2 separate regions of the Homo sapiens genome follow, and region 1 is linked to region 2. Evidence: fine-mapped expression QTL. A gene starts in region 2. The other region holds a variant in brackets. All regions are shown on one strand. Distances are between the middles of the regions. Region 1 overlaps RIPPLY2-CYB5R4 (RIPPLY2-CYB5R4 readthrough). Region 2 holds the start of CYB5R4 (cytochrome b5 reductase 4).

Region 1 (2,916 bases), 66 kb after region 2:
TCTACTGCTAGGAAGTTTGAAAGGGACAATGTGTGTTGTCCTGCTTTTTTTTCCCATAGAAGTTAAATTTCAGACTCTACTATCTAATGTTTAGGCATAGCAAAGTCATTACGTAATGATACCTGAATGAAGAAGCCCACTTGTGCTTAGACTGTTGATCAACCATTTTCTCTTTCAGGTCCCCTTTTGTGAAAGATACAAAAACAAGTTTAAGTTTATGCTTTGTATGTCTGCTTGATATTTTTCCTAATGAGGAAGACATGTTTACTATTTTTCTTCTTAATTAAACTGGTTTCTCAGTTTACTTCTTGTATTAGTCTCTTCTCACATGGCTATAAAGAAATGCCTGAGACTGGATAATTTATAAAGAAAAAAGGTTAATTGGCTCACAGTTCCACAGGCTGTATAGGAAGCATGGTCCTGGCATTTGCTTGGTTTCTGGGGAGGACTCAGGAAACTTACAATCATAGCAGAAGGTGAATGGAAAACAGGCACATCTTACATGGCTGGAGAAGGAGGAGGAGAGAGATGGGGGAGGTGCTACACACTTTTAAACAACCAGATCTTGTGTGAACTCTGTCACGAGAACACCACCAAGAGGGTGGTCCTAAACCATTCATGAAGGATCCGCCCCCATGCTCCAGTCAACTCCAACTAGGCCCTACCTCCAACACTGGGGATTACAATTCAACCTAAGATTTGGAAGGGGACACAGATCCAAACCATATCTTTTCTAAAAGATGATACCATTCATTTCTTTTCATTTTTAAAAAGCTTTTTATCTAAGTTTAACATATATATAGAAAAGGGTGCATATTAGAAGTGCTCTACTTGATGATACTTTGCAAAATGAACATATCCTGTATTTTCTCTTTGGAAATTGGTAGTATTTGCTCCTTGTTCTAAGTGTTTTGGAATTTCACAATGATGTGCCAGAACATGGATGATTTTTCATCCTTCATGCTGGGTATACATTTTTTGTGCTAATCTTTTCAATATGGAAACTTAATGATCTTCAGTTCTTGGAAACTATTATTGGTTTTTCTTCTCCCCATGGTCTGTTTTACTTTCTACATATTGAACTTCCTTAACTGTTCTTCTAATTATCTTATCTTTTCTCTCTTATTTTCAGTTTTGTCCTTTTGTTCTACTTTCTGCAAGATGTCTTCAGCTGTGTCTTCTAGCTCTTCTATTGAGTTACTCATTTCTACTCATATTTTTAACTTCTATAAATCCTTTGATTTCTTTTCCTTTGTTTTAGCATCCTATTCTTATTAGCTTATCTTTTAAAGAATGACTGGTAATGTTTTCTTCTCACTGTATAACTTCTGTGTCCCTCAGGTTTGTTGTTTTTCATTTGTTATGGTGTCTTTAATATTAAATGCTTTCTTTGAATGTTTCCTAATCTTTTACTATCTGCTCATATTTCAGGGTGGGACTGTAAAGCTAATTGGAAACTGTGCATGTGGGTGTGGCTTGTCAACGGTTATATTCACTATATGGCTGGAACATTTCTTTGGGAAAAGTCCAATGCCAAGAGTCCCTAGAGTGAACAATCTCCTACCTTGTACCCAGCATTTCAGAAGCCATGTGGGGAAGAAGGCTGGGCCTAGCTTCTGGTATATCTGTAA[G/A]CGTCACTTAATTTTTTCTTTCTTTTTTTTTTTTTCTTAGAATGTTATATTAGTTTGCTAGGACTGCAGTAACAAACTACTACAGACTGAGTGTCTTTGGCAGAGTCGGTCTCTTCTGAGACTTCTTCCCTTAGCTTGTAGATGGCCTCCTTTTTTCCTGTTTCTTTAGATGGTCTTCCTTCTGTGTGTCTGTGTCCTAATGTCCTCTTTATAAAAATACCAGTCACAATGAATTAGAGCCAACTTAATTACCTTTTAAATGAAGACCCCATTTCCAAATGTCGTCACATTCTGAAGTGTTGGGGGTTATGACTTCAACATATGTGTTTGGTGAGGGGACACAATTCAGTCTATAGCATAGACCCAATCCAAAGACCCCTTGTTTACCCTCTAGAGTGCAAACTTCTTATATTTTGCTCATGTGGGGAAGTGTCAGTCATGTGGCTGTGCTAAGTAGGGGAGGACTTCAAGGGGATGGGAAGACCTATCCAAGCTTCTTAAATGAACTTGTATTGAGAAAGTAATTTTAATTCTACCTTGACTCTGATGCCAGAGGTACTTGGTCCTGCCAGTTTCTGGGCCTTAAAGGAATTTTGTATTATAAGCATGTTGGTTCTTGGCTTTCTACACTTCTGGCTTAGCATTCATCTGTCTTGGGTCTGTTGAGTCATTTACCAGTCTTCTCTCTGCCTTGTCAGCTCCTAAAGTTTTGTTGCTTTTGTCTCTGATTTCCGTTCTTCCTGTCTGTGTGGGCTTATGCCTTAAAAATCAAACACACATACAAAAACCCTCTTTGTTGTTATTTTAGGGGATTCAGAAGGAACTAACTGCATGTATTCAGTTTATCTTCTTTAAATATGTAAAATTATCATATATAATTTATTGCATGAGATAGGAAAAAACAAACTTTTTCCTAGTCTTACCGCTCCACTCAGAACACTAAAATGTGAGATTTCTTCTCACCAACAACCAATTCTACAGCAAACTGTCTATCCTACAATTTAACTCAAGTCTGATACATCCTGGAGTTTAGGGCAGACCCCACAGGTTAAGGGCTTAGTCCCACAAGACTGCCCCCTACTTCACATGCCAGTTGCAAATTCCAGGTTGTGATCTATCTTCTGACCAGCTACCTATAAATCAGTGTTATCACAGCCTCCTTCTTGGGTTCAAAAATTTGCTAGGATGGCTCACAAAACTCAGGGATACATTTAAGTTTATCATTTTACTATAAAGGATATTACAAAGGATACAGATAAATAGCTGGATGGAAGGAATACATAGG
Region 2 (2,916 bases):
TAAATCTCAGTGATTAGTTTTTCTTGTGTAGACTCTAGAAGAATATGTCATCATTTAATGAGAGAGAACACAGAAGCAATTTGCAAAGTCAAAGTAATACAGTTAATTATAGTCATGAGGTTCTTTTAGCTCAAATTCAGTCTTCTCATAATAAGCATTTCAATTGCAAATAAAAATGGATAGAGGTGAATGTCATAGGTGGCTACCTTATTTGAATGCTTGTATTTGAATGGCCACATATAGTCACACACTTTTTCTTCTGATTCTGCAAACATAACCTTGATTTTTTAGGCACTTTAAGAACTAAGTAGTTAAACAGAGAAAGTTTAAAGCATGACAATATGTTCAGAGTTAGGAAAAATTAGTAATTAAAGGAGGATGGGGAGGATTATTTAGAACTATGTTTCTTCTCCTGAAAACTTTCTCCCTTATTGGATTCTACTCTCAAGATCTATGTGTTCCCCAAGGGACACACAAAACAATCAATCAAACAAACAAAAACCATCAGATTTTGAGCATTAGAGCCTGGTGTTTACCTGCACAGTGTTGGTCCTTTTCCCATTAATATGTTGGAATAGCACAAACAGCCACTGCCACTTATTCAGTACCTAATATTAATCAGGCACTGCAGTATGTAGTTTACACATGATCCTTTAATCTTTAATAAACCCATTATGCAGATGGGGAAAATGAGACTTTGAGATACTAAAGTAACTTGCATAAGACAGCTCAGTCATTAAGTGCAGGGATGGCATGCAAACCAAATCTGACTTTTAAACGTTACTTCATCACCACAGCTGGAGGTGAGCTGCATCAGTACACAATTCCCAGTGAAGACAGGAAGTTACATAAGGAGGGAGAATTTGTGAGTGGGTGAATAGAGCAGAAGGTGACTTTACTAACGTCTTTCGCGCATTCATTAGCCCTCAGCATGCTTAAAGGTGAAGTTTAAGGATGATTAAAGGTGAGGTTTTCTTCTTACCCCACAGTAGTGGCTGTTGACATTTGATATTTTTGCTCTTAAAGGTGTGAGATGCTCTTTGCATTACAGCCTAGTGCCTTACAGGAAAGAATTTCAGAGAAACTAAAATTCGTTTTAGTCCATATTTCAAGTAGTGTGTTTTAGTCCATATTTCAAGTAGTGTGATGGTACTGCTTAACAATGAACAGACATTGCTGTTCCGGGTTAACAGGACTAAGAATTTGTTCCCACATTCGGTCAGCACCAAGGCTAAGGAACAGCTTCACTCTCTAATCTTTCCACGAAATAGCTGTCACCTTGCTCCGGTGCTGAAGTTCGGGATGCGGAACTAGCTGAGCATGCGTACTTCCTCCCTGCCGGCCCTCCCTCCGTCCCGTTGGCTCCGCCCTCCGCGGACGTGCTGCGTCAGAATGCGCCTCACCCCTGGCGACCCCGGAAGTGGGTCGGGGGCTTGGCCTCTGCCCGGCCACAGAGCCGGAGCTGGAGGTGCTGTCCCGTCTGGCGGCGATCCCCGGGCAGGGCCCGGGGCCGGGGTTTGAAGATGCTGAACGTCCCTTCCCAGTCTTTCCCGGCCCCCAGGTCGCAGCAGCGTGTCGCCTCCGGGGGGCGTAGCAAGGTAAGCGGGTGGCTCCGTGAGTCTCTCCCCTCGCTGCGTTTCGAGCTCTGGCAGTGTGTTCTCTTCTTCCGCCCCAACTCCCAGCTCCTGCACCCCTCTCTAAGCTGTCGTTCCCTGCTGTCCTTGCCTGCAACCTCTTTCTGATCCCACTTTGTCTACAGTCCCTAAACTCTCCTTACCTCCTCCCTTTCCCCTAGCAGTCCCTCTTCTTTCTGGTCCTTTATCCCGCTCTATCCGTTCCCTTCCTCCAAGTCCTTTCCCGCGATTTAAATTTATATGACAGAGCCAGGCACTGTGTTTGCGGTATTATAGGCTCTCGGTATTAGCCGCCTTCCCTCAACCTCATCTTCTCCCTGGTCTTTTGTTCTTCACTGCCTGAAGGAGTTGTACCACATCACTCGATGTGGGTTCCCTCGCAGGAGGGAAAGGCTTGGCAGTGGCGACAGTGACCGTCCGTGCAAGGATGGGGACTTCTGGAGTTGGGGAGCTAGGTCAGGTTTACAGACACTATCCAAGACATACTGCCTTTCTTTCTTCCTCTGGTACCTGATTGTTTTGTCATTGCCTTTTCTACTAGTATCACTTGCTAACTTCGAAGCAAATATAATAATACTCTTGAGTTCTTGTTGAGCACAGTTGCTGTTAGCAACAGGTGGAATACTGTACAGATATATTTTATATTTGCAGAATTCAATAAAAATTGTGTTCTTTGTTCTTTTGCGAATGTTGTTTGTTCCTATTTGTTAGTTCCTCATTCTGTAACCATATCTTTATCTTTCGTTTGTGACACTTCCACTTAACTTGGGCCACTCGGTTAACTCTTGAGTCTTAGCATCGTTTGGAACCCTTATCGATTTTCTTATTTTTCTCCACTTAGACCTGGCGTTCTGATTCTAGTTCAGAATGAATATAGGTTCAGGGATCTGTGGTTTTCATTAGCTTTCCAGAGATTTCTTAAGTACTTACGGGTGGCCGTGTATATTCTCAGTGCTTTGCATGTATTAACTTTAATTTTCACAATTATCCTTTGAAGTGAAAGCTTTTATTGTCTCTATTTCGCAGAAAAGGAAACTGGCTAAGAAATATTGCCCTAAATTGCGTAGGCTTGTGTTGTGGTTCTGCTGTGAAATTTCATTTACTGATTCATATATCAATCATCTAGCCATCCAATCATGTATATTTTTCTCATTGGTTTTTGACCTATTTCTTGAAGCTAAATACTTGACTGAATAACAGTCTTTCCAGAAAGAATCTCTGAATTAGAATATGAGTTACTGCCCTTCTTCGTTAAAAATACCAACTGTGTTCTTAGCATCCA

Evidence for each region. PIP is the estimated chance that this variant, and not a neighbour inherited with it, causes the effect.
Region 1: its variant is fine-mapped to the expression of CYB5R4 in whole blood (TOPMed, PIP above 0.99).

The regions. Positions count from the first base shown.
Region 1 is chr6:83,924,705-83,927,620 of GRCh38, forward strand. The region is part of intron 12 of RIPPLY2-CYB5R4 (RIPPLY2-CYB5R4 readthrough); the gene reads left to right. All of the region lies in intron 10 of CYB5R4 (cytochrome b5 reductase 4), which reads left to right. Among named protein-coding and RNA genes, the nearest start is that of CYB5R4, 66 kb to the left of the region's middle. The variant G/A (reference allele first, on the strand shown) is at 1,632.
Region 2 is chr6:83,858,260-83,861,175 of GRCh38, forward strand. CYB5R4 (cytochrome b5 reductase 4) reads left to right here and starts at 1,430. Exons shown (of 16, transcript NM_016230.4): 1 at 1,430-1,598. The coding sequence starts at 1,524. All of the region lies in intron 3 of RIPPLY2-CYB5R4 (RIPPLY2-CYB5R4 readthrough), which reads left to right. RefSeq lists a silencer at 1,501-1,550.